Linked DNA regions of Homo sapiens. The protein of the gene in region 2 purifies or fractionates together with the protein of the main gene of each other region. This does not show direct contact. Each region holds a gene or a part of one and is shown on either strand. Other genes may lie near its edges.

Evidence for each region.
Region 1: the proteins of ZNHIT6 (region 2) and RUVBL1 purify together in Homo sapiens (co-immunoprecipitation; 4 studies listed by BioGRID and IntAct, with this or other methods). This does not show direct contact.
Region 3: the proteins of ZNHIT6 (region 2) and INSR purify together in Homo sapiens (co-immunoprecipitation; one large-scale study listed by IntAct). This does not show direct contact.
Region 4: the proteins of ZNHIT6 (region 2) and NOTCH2 purify together in Homo sapiens (co-immunoprecipitation; one large-scale study listed by IntAct). This does not show direct contact.

The regions. Positions count from the first base shown.
Region 1 is NC_000003.12:128,102,443-128,107,020, forward strand, and holds part of RUVBL1 (ruvB-like 1), read right to left. Parts: intron 2,483-4,578; coding exon 2,331-2,482; intron 1-2,330. UniProt on the Homo sapiens protein: Possesses single-stranded DNA-stimulated ATPase and ATP-dependent DNA helicase (3' to 5') activity; hexamerization is thought to be critical for ATP hydrolysis and adjacent subunits in the ring-like structure contribute to the ATPase activity.
Region 2 is NC_000001.11:85,704,964-85,710,560, forward strand, and holds the start of ZNHIT6 (box C/D snoRNA protein 1), read right to left. Parts: upstream 3,471-5,597; 5' UTR 3,322-3,470; coding exon 2,666-3,321; intron 1,545-2,665; coding exon 1,479-1,544; intron 1,393-1,478; coding exon 1,286-1,392; intron 1,201-1,285; coding exon 1,115-1,200; intron 1-1,114. UniProt on the Homo sapiens protein: Required for box C/D snoRNAs accumulation involved in snoRNA processing, snoRNA transport to the nucleolus and ribosome biogenesis.
Region 3 is NC_000019.10:7,115,545-7,120,122, forward strand, and holds part of INSR (insulin receptor isoform Long preproprotein), read right to left. Parts: intron 4,040-4,578; coding exon 3,905-4,039; intron 1,867-3,904; coding exon 1,512-1,866; 3' UTR 1-1,511. UniProt on the Homo sapiens protein: Receptor tyrosine kinase which mediates the pleiotropic actions of insulin.
Region 4 is NC_000001.11:119,964,293-119,968,870, forward strand, and holds part of NOTCH2 (neurogenic locus notch homolog protein 2 isoform 1 preproprotein), read right to left. Parts: intron 3,941-4,578; coding exon 3,785-3,940; intron 3,330-3,784; coding exon 3,141-3,329; intron 2,198-3,140; coding exon 2,084-2,197; intron 1,275-2,083; coding exon 1,161-1,274; intron 1-1,160. UniProt on the Homo sapiens protein: Functions as a receptor for membrane-bound ligands Jagged-1 (JAG1), Jagged-2 (JAG2) and Delta-1 (DLL1) to regulate cell-fate determination.

The DNA of each region.
Region 1 (4,578 bases), on a different chromosome or scaffold from region 2:
AAGGATTCTATAGTTAAACACAAGTTTCTCGAGGTCTTCATGGAGATCTATGTTATACAATGTAGCTATGGTGGAAAAAAAACTTGGGCTTTGCCCAAACAAAATTAAAAAGTGAAAACCCAGGACTTGGTGAAAGAAGCCAGATACAAAAAAAGACATACACTGTATGTTCCATTTATATGAAATGTCCAAAAGAAGGCAACCGAAAGTAGATTAGTAGTTGCCGAGGGCTATAGTTGGAATGGGGAATGACTGTAAATGAGTAGGAGGATTCTTTTTGGGGCGATGAAAATGTTCTGAAATTAAGATTGTGGTGATTGTACAACTGTGAAAATAAATTAAAATTCCTGGAATTGTATACTTAAAATGGGTGAGTTTTATTTAAAATGCTATCTGAATAAAGCTTTTAAAAAACTACCACCACAGCAGCAAACCCAGGGTTCTGCCTCTCCTTAGCTGGGTGGGGACGGCAGACCCTGGCAGAACTGCTGTGAGTCTGTGCGCCTAAGGACAAAAGTGGGTGAGGCCCCCAGGTAAGGCCTGGCAGGAAGGGGTCATGAGTACTAATGGCATTCTCGTTGCTAGAACTCAGAAGACTCCTTCAGACTTGAATATCCACCAAGTATTTGAGCACCTTCTATCCAAATATCTTGTACATATTCTAAAAATACCTAAAAGTATTCATTTTGGAAGAAAAATTTCATCTTCTCCTCTACATTATTTTTGTAAAGAAACTGTACAAAGCAGTGTTACAAATAGCTGAAATTTAAACTGTACGCCTTATTTTATCTGTCCTACATTGGAGAATATACTTCTTTTTTGCCTCAAGCATTTTTATATCGGTTAATTTCCCAAATGAATTGACTGAAGATGTAATTACTGGAAAGGTGGCAGATGCTACTGAGAAATCTAATTAATTCAGAATGGAAGTGACGAGGGGTAGGTATAAAAGAGATATTTGCAGAGGCAAGTTCCTGAGATGGAAACCCTGTTAGGAAAAAGAAAAATGGCCCTTTGAAGAAGTGACATTTTTATGATCTCCATAAAGCAGTGACCAAGAAACAACCTCAGAGAATCAAAGAACCATAAAATCGTAGAACAGAATAAAAATGGAGAAATTATATGGTCAATCTCCTGCAGTTTATAGATGAGAAAACTGAGTCCCAGAGAGCTCAACTGACTTCCAAAGGTCACACAGCAAGCTGGTGGGCAGACAGTACAACGGTTAGGACTCAGAGGGTCAGCTCTGCCACATGACTGGCTGGATGATCCCAGGATAACCATGTAACCTCTTTATGAGCCTTCATCTGTTAACATGAGGAAAACTATACACACATACACACACGCAAACATATACACATATAAAGTTATGAATGACAATAAATGTTTGTTGAAGCACTTAGTCCAAGGCCTGACACATACAATAAATGAGAGCTATAATGATAATATTTATTAATAATAATAAGGCAAAGCCTAAAATCCAGACTGCTCCATTTCTCCAAGTGAAGGCTCTCACGATAACATTAACAGCTATCATTCATTAGGTAACTAGGTGCCACACCCAAAGCCATAACCCTGAAAGACAGGCAATTATTATTCCCATTCAACAAATAAAGAAACTACTACTCAGAGATTAATGCCACACAGTTGTAAGTAACAAAGCCAGGGATTCCTTAAGGACTTAGACTCCAAAACTCATGCTCTTCCCCTAGAAACTCTACTGCCTCCATCCTAAAGACTTACAGGACAGGTGGCTGAGGACTGTCTTTGAGCGCTATCCAGTGTCACCATTCTGGCCTCTCCACAAAGCCCTGTACTAAACAGAACCAGCCACTGAAGCGACCACAGGTTCCTGACACAAGCAACTGCAGTCAGGATTCTGCATGTGGCCCCTGGGAAGCCCATCCATCATCTTTATACAACTCTTATTTGATTACTCAATGCTGTTTCTTTCTATGAGCATGGGCACTGATAACTGGAAAAATTAATGCCCAGGTTCAGACCCAGCCCAGGGTATTTGATGCATGGTCATAATATGGGACATGGGATGGCAGAGGCAGTTTCTTGACTTAACCACACAGCTCACATTTTAACATGCAGAGTTTCCTAGGAGTAAGTAAGAAAAGAGCTATCTTCCTTGAGTCCTCCTATGTGCAAGCCCTATGCTAGGTACCGCTTTATACACACAATATCCTCAACCAATTCTGTGAGAAATCAATACCTGCAGTGCACAGGTCAGGAAACTGGGATGCAGAGAGGTTACACCACCTGCCCAAAGCCACACAGTGCTGGGAGAGTCAAGGGAAAAGAGGCCACATACATGTACTCACTTTCAACTGTTTGGTTCCTTTGGCTGTTTTGAGTCCTATGATCACATGGCTAATGGTTTTGCCATATCCTCCCATGGGATTCTCTGTCTCACACGGAGTTAGCTCTGTGACTTCACCTTCATAAACTTCCTTGGTCTCCTTTATTCGCAGCCCTGGAAGAGGTGGCAGAGGGGCCATGGTGAGAAGCAGAATCTTTTCTCTCACACTGAGAGCCCAAAACTTCCATGTCACCAGAACTGCCAAATCAACCTTAATAATGTACATTCCAGGGTGTCATGATGGGTAAAAAGGCAATACAAACATATCAATGTAAATTAGAGGCACTATTAGAAATGCAACTTTTTTTTTTTTTTTTTTTGAGATAGAGTCTCGCTCTGTTGCCCAGGCTGGAGTGCAGTGGCACGATCTCGACTCACTGCAACCTCTGCCTCCCCGGTTCACTCCATTCTCCTGCCTCAGCCTCCAGCCTCCCGAGTAGCTGGGACTACAGGCGCCCGCCACCACGCCCGGCTAATTTTTTTGTATTTTTGGTAGGGACAGGGTTTCACCATGTTAGCCAGGATGGTCTTGATCTCCTGACCTCATGATCTACCCTCCTCGGCCTCCCAAAGTGCTGGGTTATAGGTGTGAGCCACCACACCCGGCCTAGAAATGCAACTTTTTAAGGGAACTTTCTAGGTTCAAATCCAGAACTAGATAGACAAGTTATAATTCTTAAAATTGTCTGCTTCATTTCCAAGGGGGTGAAATTTACCTTTAGCCTTTAATCCAGTCTCTGAACCCACACTATTCTATTCCACCAGAACAGTGGCTATCAAAACTCCTGTAGCCTTGTTTCCTGAATTTCTGACTCTCAAAGGAAATCTTAAAACCAGTGGAATAACTCATTACACACCCTCTGACACTATGAAACCTGAGCAGAACATACTAAAATAATTAGGTATCTATGTCAACAGTGGGTGACACTCAAAACTGCCAGGTGTTATGGGCCTCTGGCTCTCACTGCATACTCCAAGAAGAAATACCCAGTTGTCATGCATTATTTGCAATGTGTTGCTCTACAATTTTCTTTCTTTCTTTCTTTCCCTTTTTCTTTTTTTTTTTTTTTTTTTTTTGAGATAGAATCTCATTCTGTCACCCAGGCTGGAATGCAATGGTGCGAACTTGGCTCACAGCAAGCTCCGCCTCCCAGGTTCAAGTGATTCTCCTGCCTCAGCCTCCCAAGTAGCTGGGATTACAGGCGTGCACCACCACATCTGGCTAATTTTTGGGGTTTTTTTGTACTTTTAGTAGAGATAGGTTTCACCATGTTGGCCAGACTGGTCTTGAACTCCTGACCTCAGGTGATCCACCCACCTTGGCCTCCCAAAGTGCTGGGATTACAGGTGTGAGCTACCATTCCCAGCTGCTCTACAGTTTTTCTAAGGCCATAACAACAAAACCAATTTCCAAAGCACCTTACATTAGAATATTGCAAATAAAGGTAAATTTCTCTCTGAATTCTAAACATCATCCACATTAGCTCTTTAATAAACGTTTGTTCATTATCCAAGAATCATTGTTAAATTAACTTTTAGAACGTGATCTCTATGTTCATTACATGCTTTTGCATATAACGGTTCTGCTTCCTGAACCACTCTTTTTAGCTTAGGCAACTCCTCCTAGCAGACTCAGTTTAAAACGTATCCCCCCCCCCTTCACACATTCTTCTTCCTCATCCTCCAAATTGTCCCCATGGTGACCTGTGTTTCCACTGGCACAGCAGCAGCCCACGGCAATGCCATAACTTGCAGACCTTGCCTACCCCTCTGCAGATTGCCCACACCTGAGCTGAGGGCACAGCACATAGGCAGGTAGAGTGAATGGATGAATGAATGAAGTCACTAAGAGTGAAGGGGTTGTCATTAGGCACATCATCTACTAATAATACCCAAGAAACGAACCTGCAGATACATTTACATGTTCTATATGGTAATGGCCTGAGAACTCTAAGGAGTCAGCCATGTAATGTTATAGCCTGTATCACCGAAACACCCTCAACCTCAGCACTAAAAGCCAGGCATAACTGAACTGTACTGTTAGAAATCAAGACTACCATTAACTTGGGGAAGGAAGGATGGCAACTGGGAGTGGACATCAAGGGTACCTTGGAGTTCTGGCAACATTCCCTTTTTTGATTAGCTGCTGGTTTCACGGGTTTTTACTTTACAATAATCCACCAAGCTATGCATTTATGTTCTGCACACTT
Region 2 (5,597 bases):
AGTCTTGTTAGCTCTTCCTTCAAAATCGCAATCTAATCCCTTCCCAATAATTCAAACAGTACACCCAAGCCACTATTATCTCACAAGGATCATGGGAAGAGCTGCATAATTGGTCTCCCTGCTTCCAATCTTCCATTCTTGCCCCGCTAAAGTTCACAAAGTGCAAGAGTGGTTTTTCAAAAGGCAAATTTATGTTCAAAACCCTTCCATGGTTTCCATTTGCACTTAGAATTAGAAACCCTCACCAGTTTCTTTTCTTTTTTCTTTTGAGACAGAGTCTCACTCTGTTGCCCAGGCTGGAGTGTAGTGGCGCAATCATGGCTCACTGCAGCCTTGACCTTCCTGGGCTCTGGTGATCCTCCCACCTCAGCTTCTCAAGTTGCTGGGAGTACAGGGGCACGCCACCACGCCTGGCTAATTTTTGTATTGTTTTATAGAGACGGGTTTTCACCATGTTGCCCAGGCTGGTCTTGAACTCCTGAGCTCAAGGAATGCTCTGGCCTCAGCCTCCCAAAGTGTTTGGATTACAGGCATGAGCCACTGCACCCAACTCCTCACCAGTTTCTCTAACTTCATTTTCAATACTCTCCTCCTCACTCACTATGCTTCAGTTACCTTGCAAATCTTTTAATTCCTCAAACCAGACATCCTTGTTTCTGACTCAGGTCTTTCCTTTTACTTTTGTCCCTACCTGGGATAATCTGCCTCCAAATGTTCACATGACAGCCTCTTTCTCAGCACTCAGATCACTGCTTACACATCATCTCTTTGAGAAGCTTCTCCTGACCACTGTATCGAAAATAGTACCCTGACAATCTCTCCCCAACAAAGACCATTTTCATTCTCTCTTTAATCTCTTGAGCCTTCTTTATTTTCTATATGAACTTAACTCTATCTGAAATTACATTTGTTCCTCTACTTATCTCCTATATCTCCCACTAAATACAACTCCACGAGGGGACGGACTTTGTTTGGGTCACAGCCATATCCTTAAGTAATCAGAATAGCTCTACATCATGGTAGCCACTTAATATATTTGGTAAGTTAAAAAAAAAAAAAGAATCTAATTGATTTGAAGGACTTCTAACTGGAAGAAATTAGGAAAAAATCTTACATATTTATTGCTTATTGGTCTCTTCAAAAAAGCATCTCTAGAAATATGGTCCGCTGTTCTTGCCACATCTTCCAAAAATCGATAATCTAAAAATTTCAAAACAGAAGAATAAACAAGTGACATATACCAATGGCCAGGAAGCCTCAATTTGCTATGCATAAAGTGGCTTACCACTTAGGAGATTCATTTCAGTAAACTGTTGTATTGAAATGTATGCAGTTTTATCTCGAACTCCATTACATGTCAGTTCTGCTTTGTGTTTCTTTACACAGGGCAAACTGAAAAGACAAAGGGGAAGTACTTTTATATTTTAGGGTAAGAAAGGTACAGATACAGGTTAAAAGGTAGGAAGTTACATGTATACCTGCAGGAATATCGCATACAACGTGGACATCTGTACTTTGCTTCTTCTGTACCACAAGTCTCACACCTACAAAAGCCCACATGTAACATTAAATTATCAAATATTAATTGTATTTATTTATAAACTTAGAATTCCCAATCAATTTATAAACTCAGTGACAAGTAACTGATAAAATATTTGATAGCTGTTGAACATCATTTGAAAATTCTTCTCTATGAAACCTTCCCAAAACAACTACATTTCCAATGTTGTTAGTGATATGTAACTCAGGAAAATGTATTAAAATTTTTAAAACCCATCTCGCTTTTGACTTCTTTTTCTACTATAATCAGGGAATGAGATTATTCACTGATATTTTAACTTGTGATTCCTGGAAATGTGGTAATGATTGTATGTGTGTGTATCCAGAAGTCCAATTCATGAGCTATGTTTAGATATTTTTAAAGCACACACCAGACAAAGAATATAAGGCCAAGTGAAATTTAGAGAGTAGTAGTAGCACCCTTTTTCCTGAACTCCACGCCTAATCTAGAATGAGCATCGAAATAATCTAGAAATGCCATGTAACCCATCATCTGTCCTCAACTGCTCTTCTATGCTCCTGGGATACTGACAACCAAACTACAGTTACTTCTATTTAGCCCACTGTGTTCTAGACGGGAATATTCTCAAGAATCTGACTACTCTTATTTCCTTTGTCACATGATCCACACACTAAGGAAATTCAATCAAAAGCAATAAATATTCACAGCACCCATGAAGAAGCTTGATAATTGAGGTCAAGTGTATTTTTGCCTAGTTTTAACTTAATCTACTTTGTCATTGTTAGTTTTATTAGACTTTCTCATCTCTATTCTCTCTCAAAGGAATACCGAGTAAAGAGCATATTAAGTCAAGCCAGATCCAGTTCCAACTGATCTTTTGGTCCCCAGAATTTCCACTTTCCTAACTTGACCATTACCCATTGGACACTACTAATTTCATGTATTTTCACTGAATTTGTTGTGTTGTCATGTACAACACCCTCCACTTCCCAACCCACCCCCGCGAACGCCGTCTGACTCCAGAAACCCAAACTTGTGCTCATTTTTCATTATTCCACCTTCTCCTGATAGTGTGGTTTCCTTCACTCTAGACATGAGGACTCCACAGCTTTATTCCCCTAAATGGAATCCCCCATGCCCTACCTTGACATGGCCAGTTTCCGCTTGCAGCCCACCGGGTGATTTATCGGAGGCTCTTCTTTCACCTTTGTATCATCCACGATTTCTTTCTTCAGGAAATCCTTCTCTTCTTTTACACACTCTCCATGCATCAATTCCTCTTTTATGCATTGACCAACAAACTTCTCCTCCTGTTTTATCTCCAAGTTATCCTTCTCTTCCTTCACTTCTGACCAGTCCATTACCTCTTCCTTTACCTTCTCTTCCTTTACCTCTGGTTCACCCACCTTCGCTTCTTTTACCACTAAACTACTATCCGTCTCCTGCTTCACCTCCAATACGCCTGCGTTCTCATCCTTCACCTCAGGCCTATCCTCCACCTCCTGTTCTACCCACTGGCCAGCCAACCTGCCTTCTGTACCTGGCCAGTCTATAATTTCCTGCTTCACTACCGTTAGGTCCATCGGTATTTCCTCTGGCCTTTGTCCACTTCCTTCCTCTCCATCCCCTATCTCCTTTATCCCTGTCAGCCCTGTCCCCTCCTCTCCGCCGCCGAACTCCTCCGCCCCTGCTAAGTCCCTTACTCCCTCCCTGCCAGGCTCTGGACTTAGCCGCACCCCCTCAGCTACGCTGTGGAGACCTCCCCCAGACTTCCCTTCATTTTCAGCAGCAAACTCCATCAACTCACGATCCTTGGCCTCTGCTGCCACTCTATCCTTCAATGTGGCTGCTGCACACCAATAGGAGGAATTACCGGTCGGAATACCTACGGCGGCCCACGTGTGGAGCCAAGCAGCCACAAACCCGGAATAGCCTGCTTGACGCGACTGCTCGAATCGCCGTAAAGCTACGCTTTTGCGCCTCGCCCCTTCACGACTTGTAGAGCTCTTTACGGCTCTGCGGAGGCCCTGCCGGATTCTCTGGGCGAACAAGCGTAACTGCGTGACTTGCCCGCTGGGGTTCTCGTCTCCTTCCTGGTTTCCACCACCCTCTTCCCTTAGAGAAGCCTCCTGGGCCACTCCCTGGGCCACCCTCCACGCCCTGCTGGGTGTAAAGAGTGTAGGAGACCGGCAGAGGGAGAGAAGCGAAACCCTTACACTCTGGAAGTGGGAAAACCCACCCTAATCTGTGTTAACCATTAAATCCAATCTTGCATGAAAATGGAGGACACACCTGATGTTATTAGGCCTTTCCAAGCTTTAGTTTCTTAAAGCTATAAACTAGGGACCATGGTATTATTAATATAAATCTCCCAGTGTCATTGCAAAGATTATATGAGATCATGCATGGAAATCAACTAGCAGTGACGGACACAAACTCGATATATAACTGGGAATCCTGATGGGCTTCAAACCGCCTGGTTTCCACCACCCCCTTCCCTTAGGGAAGCCTCCTGGGCCACACCCTAGGCCACCCTCCACGCCCTACTGGGTGTAAACAGTGGAGGAGACCGGCAGAGGGAGAGAAGCGAAACCCTTACACTCTGGAAATGGGAAAACCCACCCTTATCTGTGTTAACCATTAAATCCAATCTTGTATGAAAAAGGACACACCTGATGTTACACCTTTGCAAGCTTTAGTTTCTTGAAGCTATAAACTAGGGAGCATGGTATTATTAATATAAATCTCCCAGTGTCATTGCGAAGATAATATGAGATCATGCATAGGAATCAACTGTCAGTGACAGACACAAACTCAGTGTATAACTGGGAATCATGATGGGTTTCAAGTAGGAAAGAGGGCATTAATTTTTCTTTCCATTCTTTCTAAGTAACAGCCTGCGTCAGGCTATTCCCCATTCCCAGCATTCTGCAGGATTCTCTCAGAGAACATCATAAATATATTAGGCGAAAGTGCCTAATGCCCGGTATTGCTGAATAACATTGCATTGTATGAATGTGGCACGTTTTTTCATGCATGTACCAGTTGGTGGGCATTTGGCTTGTTTCCAGTTTGGGCTATTACGAATAATTCTGCTTCCACATTCATATGCAAGTCTTTGTGTGGACATGTTTACATTTCCCGTTAAGTAAATAACTAGGAGTGGAATTGCTGGGCCATATAAATTTATGTTAATTTTTAAAGAAATGCCCAAACTGTTTTCCAAAGTAGCTATACCATTTTACATTCCTACTGGCTGAGGGTTCCTATTTCTCTACATCCCGGCCAATTCTTAGTATTATCAGTTATTTGATTATAGATGTGTAGGGGTACGTCATTGAGAATTTACATTTCTTTAATGACTAATGATGTTGAACATCTTTTCATCTGCCAACTGGCCATTTGGATATTTTCTTTAATGAAATGTTTATTCAGATCTTTTGCCCATTTTTAATTGACGTCTTTTATTATCAAATTGTAGTAGTTCTTCATATATTATGGATATAGGTTTGTGGTAGACAAGCACCAGTATGTTCCCCAGTGATTCTCCACCCCCACAGTGTTCAGACCAATGTGTAGACTGCTCCTGCATCATCCCAGGATTGGTCTGTGTCACTGATAGCATACAGCAGAAGTAATACGTTACCTCTAAGATTAGGTTTGGAGAAAGGCTGTGGTTTCTGCCTTAGGCTCTTGCTTTTTTGGTCTCCTTCCTAGATCATTCACTCTGGGGGAAGCAAGCTGCCAGGTTGTGAGTACCAAGAGGCCCATGTGGTAGTGGGCCGAAGTTACTGGCTCTTACAGGCTGAATTGTGTCCCCTCAAATTCGTGTGTTAAATCCGTAACACCCAGTACCTTAGACTGTGAGTATATTTGGAGATAGGACCTTTAAAGGTGATTTCGTTAAAATGAGACCATTAAGGTCGGCCCTAATCCAATCTGACTGATATCTTTATAAGAAGAGGAAATTTGGACACAAAAAGAGACACGAGGGATGCCTGCAGAGAGAAAAGACTATACGATGATACAGTGAGGTGGCCACCTGCATGCCAGCGAGAGAGGCCTCAGAAAAAAA
Region 3 (4,578 bases), on a different chromosome or scaffold from region 2:
AGTGCACCTCTCTCTTACATTGCTTAGATGTTCCCAAAGTCCATCCAGGTTGTTGTGCTTTGGGATCTGACGTTCTTGGGTTTGCACAATAACGGTTAGGATGTTCACACCCGGGAGAGGAAACGCCACAAGAGGTACACACAGAGAATCAGAGGATGAACACAGGTGTTCTTGAAGGCAGGCTCAGAGCTAGGTAGCTACCAGCTTATCCGAACAGGAACCTTCCAGCAGACCTGGTACCTGAACCAGACCATCCATAAAACCTAGTCTCTCACACACTCCACGTGGCCTCACAACATCCAAAAGTGTTAGCAGCGAACATGGCTTCATTCCCAGAAATGGATGCCTTTAAGACCAAACAAAGAGGCCACTTGTGCCTGACTCCCTCCCCTTCCCGGCCCCACAACAGGCAGACCAACTCATGTCCCCACTCCCCGCCAACCCCGGGGAATAGTCAATAACTTATGAGGCTAATACCAGAGACTTTAAAAATTAAATATGGTACAAATATATTCTCAAAACTCTGTCATCTCAGTTCTTTTTTTTTTTCCTTTTTCCATTTTGTTTTTTCTTTCTTTTTCTTTTTTTTTTTTTAATGTCCTAGCTTGGTTTGGTCTTGAAAAGATTCATAATCACTCCAAATGAAATGCTCCTCCCTTGGCCACCAATGTGAAGGGAGGGTAGAAACCTGAGGCTAGACTTCTGACACAAGAAGAATCTGTCGAGAGCACAGTCTCCCAGTCAATAAGAAGGAAGGAGAGAGGGGGATGAGCTCGCACCCTTGAGAAGAACCTTCATGAGCCAATTCCCAAAGCATCAACTCCGCATGGATACTTTGCACACACATCAGCCGTGTCTAATGGACACACACACGTGCATACACACGTGAGCACACGCCGGGACCACAGACCCTTATCCAAAATATGAAAGCAGCAGCTATTGGTCAATTTGAGGAACTCATTTTGTAAAGAAAAAAAAAATCCTTCAGCCTGGATGAGAGAAAAAAAAAAAACCAAAAAAACCATCTTGAAGCTCAACCTGTAAAACTTGAAATTCTCCTGGAACAGGGCTGGGTGTTTTTGTTTTGTTTTTTCTTTCGAACTTTTGTTCCACAAACAGGAAGTTTTGTCTTTTATACTGAAGCTCAGACACCAGCAAAAAAAAAAAAAAAAAAAAAGAATTTGTAAAAACAGGTGCTTTCTTTCCATCTGCTGGGGGCGGGTGGGGGGAACGAAAAAACACAAAATCCTGGTTTGAAACCGTCGTTGCCCCAAAGGAGCAGCAACTGTGGAAACCCCTTGCCCTCCAGGTTCACAGTTAAATCCTCTGCAGGACTAGTTAAATTGGTAACCAAACGAGTCCACCTTAAGATGAACAGAAATGTATAGGAACGATCTCTGAACTCCATTGGACATGGTAGAGTCGTGAGAATCCTGAGTTTTCCAGAGGCTTTCAAACCAGAGGAAAGCGAAAATGGGAACCCCTGCCCGCCCCCGCCACGGTAGGCACTGTTAGGAAGGATTGGACCGAGGCAAGGTCAGAATCCGCCCGTTTTTCTTGCCTCCGTTCATGTGTGTGTAAGGGATGTGTTCCTCGTAGCTCCGCTTGAAACCCAGCGAGGACCCTCCATCCCGGCCCCCCGCCTCCTCCCTCTGACAGTGCGAGGAACGGTCCAGGGGCACATTCTCCATGTCCTCAAACTCCATCTCCAGCTCCTCACTCTCGGGAGCCTTGTTCTCCTCGCTGTGGAAGAACGACACCTCTGGAAAGCTGGGGTGCAGGTCGTCCTTGAGCAGGTTGACAATCTCCAGGAAGGTTGGCCTCATCTTGGGGTTGAATTGCCAGCACATGCGCATGAGGTCAGTGCTGCGGGGCAGAAGGACACGTCCTGGGTGAGTCTGGGGGCCCTGCCACGCATCCTCCCAAACCCCCACTCTTGTCCCTGCAGCCGACACCCACGGACCACATGTGCTCACATCAGATGCTGGCTGTGTGTGTGGACAATTGTCAAGGCAGAAATAGCATTGCTAGAGGTGCTGAGAGATGGTGTTTTCTTTTTGCTTTTCTTCTTCTTATTTTGGACACAGCGTCTCATTCTGTCACCCAGGCTGGAGTGCAGTGGCATGATCATAGCTCACTGCAGCCTCTGCCTCCTAGGCTCGAGCAATCCTCTCACCTTGGCCTCCCAAGTAGCTGGGACCACAGGTGTGCACCACCATGCCTAGCTAATTTTTGTATTTTTTGCAGAGACAGGGTTTTGCTATGTTGCCCAGGCTGGCCTCAAACTCCTAGGCTCAAATGATCCACCCACCTTGGCCTCCCAAGGTGCTGGGATTACAGGTGTTAGCCACCATGCCTGGCCGCTTTTTTTTTTTTTTGAGACAGGGTTTCTCACTTTGTCACCCAGGATGGAGTGCAGTGGCGCAATCATAGCTCATTGCAGCCTTGAACTCCTGGGCTCAAGCCATCCTCCTGCCTCAACCTCCCAAAGTGCTGAGGTTCCAGGCATGAGCCATCCTGTCCAGCCTGAAAGATGGTTTTGAAAAGGGATTCCTCATTTCAAAACTGGCTCAAGAGTAATCCCAGCACTTTGGGAGGTTGAGCCAGGAGGCTGAGTCCAGGAGTTCAAGGTTGCAGTGAGCTGTGATTGTGCCACTGCGCTCTACCAGCCTGGGTGACACAGCGAGACTTCATCTAAATATATATATATGTACATATGCATATATATTTGGAGGGGGGAATATATAATATGTATGCCTGACAAAATTTTTGTGTGTCTGTGTTTGTTTTTGAGACAGAATCTCACTCTGTCACCCATGCTGCAGTGCAATGGTGCAGTCTCTGCTCACTGCAACCTCTGCCTCCCCGATTCAAGCAATTCTCCTGCCTCAGCCTCCTGAGTAGCTGGGATTACAGGCGCCCACGACCGCGCCTGGGTAATTTTTATATTTTTAATAGAGGCGGGGTTTCACCATGTTGGCCAGGCTGGTCTTGAACTCCTGACCTTAGGTGATCGTTCACCTCGGTCTCCCAAATTGCTTGGGATTACAGGCGTGAGCCACCCATGCCCAGCTACCTGACAAAATTTTAAGTGTATAAAGAATTAACAGGCGGCTGTAATCCCAGCACTTTGGGAAGCCAAGGTGGGTGGATCACGAGGTCAGGAGATCGAGACCACGGTGAAACCCCATTTCTACTAAAAATACAAAAAAAAAAAAAAATTAGCCAGGCGCGGTGGTGGGTGCCTGTAGTCCTAGCTACTCGGGAGGCTGAGGCAAGAGAATGGTGTGAACCCGGGAGGCGGAGCTTGAAGTCAGCCGAGCTCGCACCACTGCACTCCAGCCTGGGTGACAGAGCAAGATTCCGTCTCAAAAAAAAAAAAAAAAAAAAAAAAATTAACAGGCAAACAGGTCTCTCTCCCCCAACCCCAGGTCTCCAGTTCCCTTCTCCCAAGATAACTACCGCTATAGGTGTTTTGTGCAACCTTCCAAAGATACAATATGCAAGAAAATCATATGATTTGTGAACACAAGCAGGCAGGTAAAGACATAATATGTAAACATGTGTGCTTATAATATGTAAATGAGGTGTACATGTGCCATGATATGCTGATGCACACAGAAACATATAATATGCAAACATAAATACCTATGTAAATATATAATATGCAAACGTAAGCGTACATGTAGCACATATGGGAACTCAAGTGTGTGTACCACAATGCAATATGCAAATGCAAGCATGCATGTAAAGACAAGCTATGCAAACACAAACACACCTGTAACATACAGCATGCAAACACGGTGAGCGTGTAGACATAGGAAAGGCAAAACCAAGCACACGTGTAAAGGGCAATACCCTTTCAACGAACACCTCACACACCTTAAACCCTTTCTACACTTACACTCTCTCTGGACAGTTGTCGGGTTGATCCAGATACCCTCCATCCATGACAAATTTCAACACCTGTTCATTAGACAGGCCTTGGTAAGGCTGTTCTGCCAAGCTGGTGATTTCCCAAAGGACCACGCCAAAGGACCTGCCGATGACAGTTGATAGTAGTAACAAAGAAGCCATTTAGACACACACACACACGCGCGCGCGCAAACACACACACGCAAACGCACACACACACGCAAACACACATGCCAACACATACATGCAAACACACACATGCAAACACACACGCACATACACGTGCACACACATGCAAATACACACAAACACGCATGCGCACACATGCACACACAAATATGCAAACACACAAACACATATACACACACAAACACACACACCCAAACACACACACGCACACACATGCAAACACACACAAACACACATATGCACACACATACACACACAAACACACACACAAACACATCTCTTGGTTTCTAGAACATGGTTAGCCACTTAATAAAACAATTCATGCTGCAGTTCATAAATGCTGTGAAAGGAAAATCAATTTGGGGCTCCCAAATCACTAAACTCAAGGAAAAAGTCCAGCTAGGAACTGCTTGGACAAACCTGCTTCCCATTCTATTCAGAGTCCCCACTCTGCTCACTGAGATACCTGCATAT
Region 4 (4,578 bases), about 34 Mb from region 2:
CTGGTTGAATAAAATGAATGAACCTGTTATGAGAATTTAAAAGAAAAAGAGACAAGTAAGATTTCCTTTCTTCGAGGTGTAAATAGACAAACATTATATCTTTCCCTAAAAGACTCCAGGAGTCCTCCCCCCACTTTTAAACCTGAGCTAAAGGTTTTTAATCTCTTTGAAACTTATCCTCTACAAGAAGAATCTGGCCAGGGGAAGACAAAATCTGGATTCTCTGACAAGCATTAACTATTTGCAAAAAGAAAGAAAGTGGCTCATCTGAGTTGTCCTAAACTAAGTAGGTCTAATAATTAAAATATTAACTTTTTGTATTAATTTTCACAATTAAATTTGCTTTTCTGTGATCAGAAATAAATTATATGCATGATGCCTTTAATCTTTAAGACTCCATTCTCTAAAATTAATGTCTTGAATTACATAAATAACTTCTTTCTCAAGCAGTCAGATAATAAAGAAGTTCACTTCTAATAATTTCTAGCCTTTCTGTATAATATTTGCCTGTGTAAAAGGAAATGTGTAATAGGGAACATCTGGCTTACTGAAATCCAATCCCAAGTACAAAATGTGATTACAAACCCAGAAATGCAGAATATTTGTGCACAGATCGTTTTTGACTCTAGTTGCAGAAGTCAGCAAAGAGGACCCAAACTTTCCCAGTGAGAGCTCTCTCTCCTGTCATTTACACACTTGACTCTCAATCCTATTTTGGTGTCTTTTATGCAGAATACCCCTGCACTTGTACACATTCAGCCTTTAAATTTCTGGGCCTTCTTTCAGTCACTTGCTTCAAGAAACACAGAGCCAGGCCTCCTGCTGAGAAGCCCCAGTGAAAAATAGCTTTCAACTGGATTTCTTCTCTTTCCTAAATGAGTCAATCTAGCCAGCTGGAAACTTACTGCTGCCAAAATCTGTCCCAGAAAGACATGGATACCAAATGGAAATATCTGGGCCAGACCACTGTTGTGGTGGAGGAGGCAGGTGCTGCAGAAAAAGAGAGCAGCAAAAAATTTGTTAGAAACAGCTCTTCCTAAACACAGAGGAGCCTCTGGGAGTGGACTGGCCTGGCACAGCAGCTAGCAGAGGACAGGGACAATCACCCTATTTTGTTCAGATGGACCTACCAAGGAGATGAAAAGTGAGAAGAATCTTACCTGTGGCACACTGGCATTCATAGCCATTCGGGTGATCGATACACTTTGCCCCATTCAGACACGGAGTACTGGAACAGTCATCAATATCAATCTGGCAAACTGGCCCAGTGAAACCTCAAAAAGGGACAGTGGTAACATGAGTCAAAGGATTATCTTGTGTCTCCCTTTACCATGAGAATGATGTTAGGTTACTAGCAGGGCTTATACCAATGGGTCAATAAGCCTATGCTTTATTATTCTCCCCAACAGGTAACTGGAATAACCAGGTGACACTCAGGGAATCAGAGGCACTTGTGGTGTGTCTCTACCATTGCTTCTTCACAGACAGACTTCACTTCTAAATGAAGGATGTAGGAAGTGAAATTTATAGGTGGAACCTCAAACAAGTAACTGTAGCTTCAGAGGCAACAGAAACCTTCTCTCTGAAGATACAATGGGGTAAGATGCAATCTATGGAGGACAATTTGGCATATCTTCAAAAATAGCTTGAGGAAAAAAAAGGAGAGACAGAGAATCTTGGAAAAATTGGCATGTGTTGTCTGTTTCTGAACTCATGGGTGAAATGTCTAAAAATAACAGTCTCACAGAGGGCCTTCAAGAATATGACCCATGGGAAAAAAATAAAATCCCGAATAGCCTACAACTAAGGCTTCTGTGAGGTATGAGCATTCTGAAATATATACACAGACGAAGAGGTCATGGGCCATTCAAGAATAGACTTGGACTTTTGGCCACAAAGGACTTGTAAGATATAGTAGCTAAAACAAATTCTCTATTTCTGTACACACACACTCCTATCACCAAGCACTTACTCTAATGATTTCCTCATGCACAGCCCACACACATTCTCTCCCTGCTCTCTTCCCTGTGGTCAGTTGGCTTTGTGCTTTAAGAGAAAACAGGGCCAGGTCGTGGGCACTTACCAGGAGGACACAGGCACTGGAAACGATTGACTTTATCCACACACTGCCCATTGTTCACACAAGGGTTGCTCTGACATTCATTTATTTCTAATTCACAATGCACACCTTTGAAACCTAAACAAAACAGACCACACAAGTGGCTTAAAGAGAGAGAAAGGTGTATTCCAGACAAGGAAGCACAAATTTGCAATGATAACTACATCCTTTGCGAGTACACACATTTCTGCAGAGAAAAAAGGAACTCTGCCATGATGAGAAATAGTCACTCCAAGTGTCAAGCAGGACAGGGCATACTGTGAAATACCCATGTCACTGTGAAAAGCGGGAAGGGATTACATTAAAAGACATTGGCAAGACCTAGCATATAAACAAGGACTGCTCCACATTTTCTGTGATAAATCCATACTTTCTGGACTGTGGAAGGCCCAAAATGTCCCCACTCTATGTTCCTAAAGACAAGCTGAGCTGGAGCTGTTGTTGCCTTCAGGGTGCAGTTCAAGGTCAGCAGTGCCTTTCAAGGCTGGAGTGGCCGGCAGCCTTAATCAGGCAGAGCAGCCAATGTTAGCCATCATTTCAAGCTGGATTTGGCTGTATCCTCTCAAAATTAAAGACATGGTCTATGCAGAAGAGCTCCAGAATACAACTAAACATGTACTGCACTTTAGATAAATGGAAACTTCCTATATAATTGTGGATAAAATTTATTTATATAAATGGAATGGTATGGTATTTGTAATTACATGAAGGTATCAGGAAAACTTGCTATTTAAAGGATTCTTACAGTAAATCATTTTTGAAATTTTCTATTACATGTGGATTTTGATATAACAGGCTTGTTTAATTTGGTCTACATAGCTTGATGAATTCTAGCACTGCCTTACTCTTTGAGTAAGGAAGGTTTGCTTGTGAACCCTGACTTCCTCTAGTCCCCAGTCAGCAAAGGAAATCAAATGCTGACAGAGCTCATCAGACTGCAATAGTATACTGAATGCTCTACCAAGAGAAGTTCAGAACAGTCCCTCCTCTCTAGACCCAACATGCTGATGGGCCCATTTACCTGGCATGCACAGACATGTGAAGCCTCCAATCTTATCCAGACAGGTAGCATCATTCTGGCAGGGGTCTGAATGGCACTCATTGATGTCCATCTCACAACGAGGTCCTGCATAACCCTTCAGACACTCACAGTGGAAGGCGCCATCCGTGTTCACACATTTTCCTGCATGCTCACAAGGATTGCTATTGGCTGAAAGACACAAGTACCAATTACTGGGATCAAAGCAGTTGAGTTTCCACAAATGTGAACAATAGAAGAGCATCTGATGGTTATAGCATCAGGGCCAGGCCTTCAATAATATCATTCCCAATTTTCTATTTTTTTTTCCTTAATTTAAAAAGAAATAAAAGCGGAGTATCCTCAACTGTTATGCATTTCTGCTATTGCAGTTTCTGCCCAAACTGTCATTGAGGTAGGGCTTTATATTAAGAATCAAGTACATACGTTTCATACAGTTAATCCCCAGAATGGAATATATGGTTATGGCTATGCTGAAAGGTCACTTGTAAACACTGGCCATGTAGCAAGAGTAATCTGAGGTTTGGGTGTATGTAATTTGCTTCTACAGTAAAATGTGCTTCAGTTTAAACATTTGCTGAGCTCAACAGACACTTCACAGAACAGAAAAAGTTCTGCTTACTCACCCATGGCACATTCATCCACATCTTCTGTGCAGTCAGCCCCTTTGTAGCCTTGTGGGCAGGTGCAAATATATTGCCCATTTAGGGGGTTGGTGTCACACAGTGCCCCCTTGTGGCAAGGATTGCTGATGCATGCATCATCCAGATGACACAGGAGACCTGTCACAGGGTGGGGCAAAGGACAACTAAGAGAAAATGTCTCTCACTTGGGGAAGAGCTTTCTCTTTCACCCAGGAGGGAAAACCTCATGATCAGTTCCTCAGAATCCAACATGGAGATTTATACGCAACTTCTGCTTTGCCTGACCCTACCTTGGGGACATGCTTGGCCACCAGCAAAGCACCTAGATGCAACCCTAGACTCTGACCCTGAGCTCTCAGCTAGACCTCTCCTCCAGGACAGAGACATCTACAGGCCAGAAGATAAGAAGACGGAGACAGGAAAGTGGAGCTATCTTCCAGATAGTGTGCCAGATTTAGCAAATAAAATAGAGGATGTCCAGTTGAATTTTAGATAAACAAGAAGTAATTTTTAGTATGTCTCAAATATTCCATACATCCTATATTTTATCCGGAATCCTACTTCCCCAATATTATGCTACCTGATGATCATGGGGCCACCTGAACACCATCAGCCTCTACTAGAGTAATCTTTTAATAGCATCAACATTCCTGATTCAGGTGGCCCCAGGTCTCTGAAGATATTACTAGGCTTCCTGTTTTATATAGTTCACATGGGAACTGGATTTTCCAGTCTGCAATTAACTTAAGAAGAGGTAACTAAAGCTTCTTCCACAA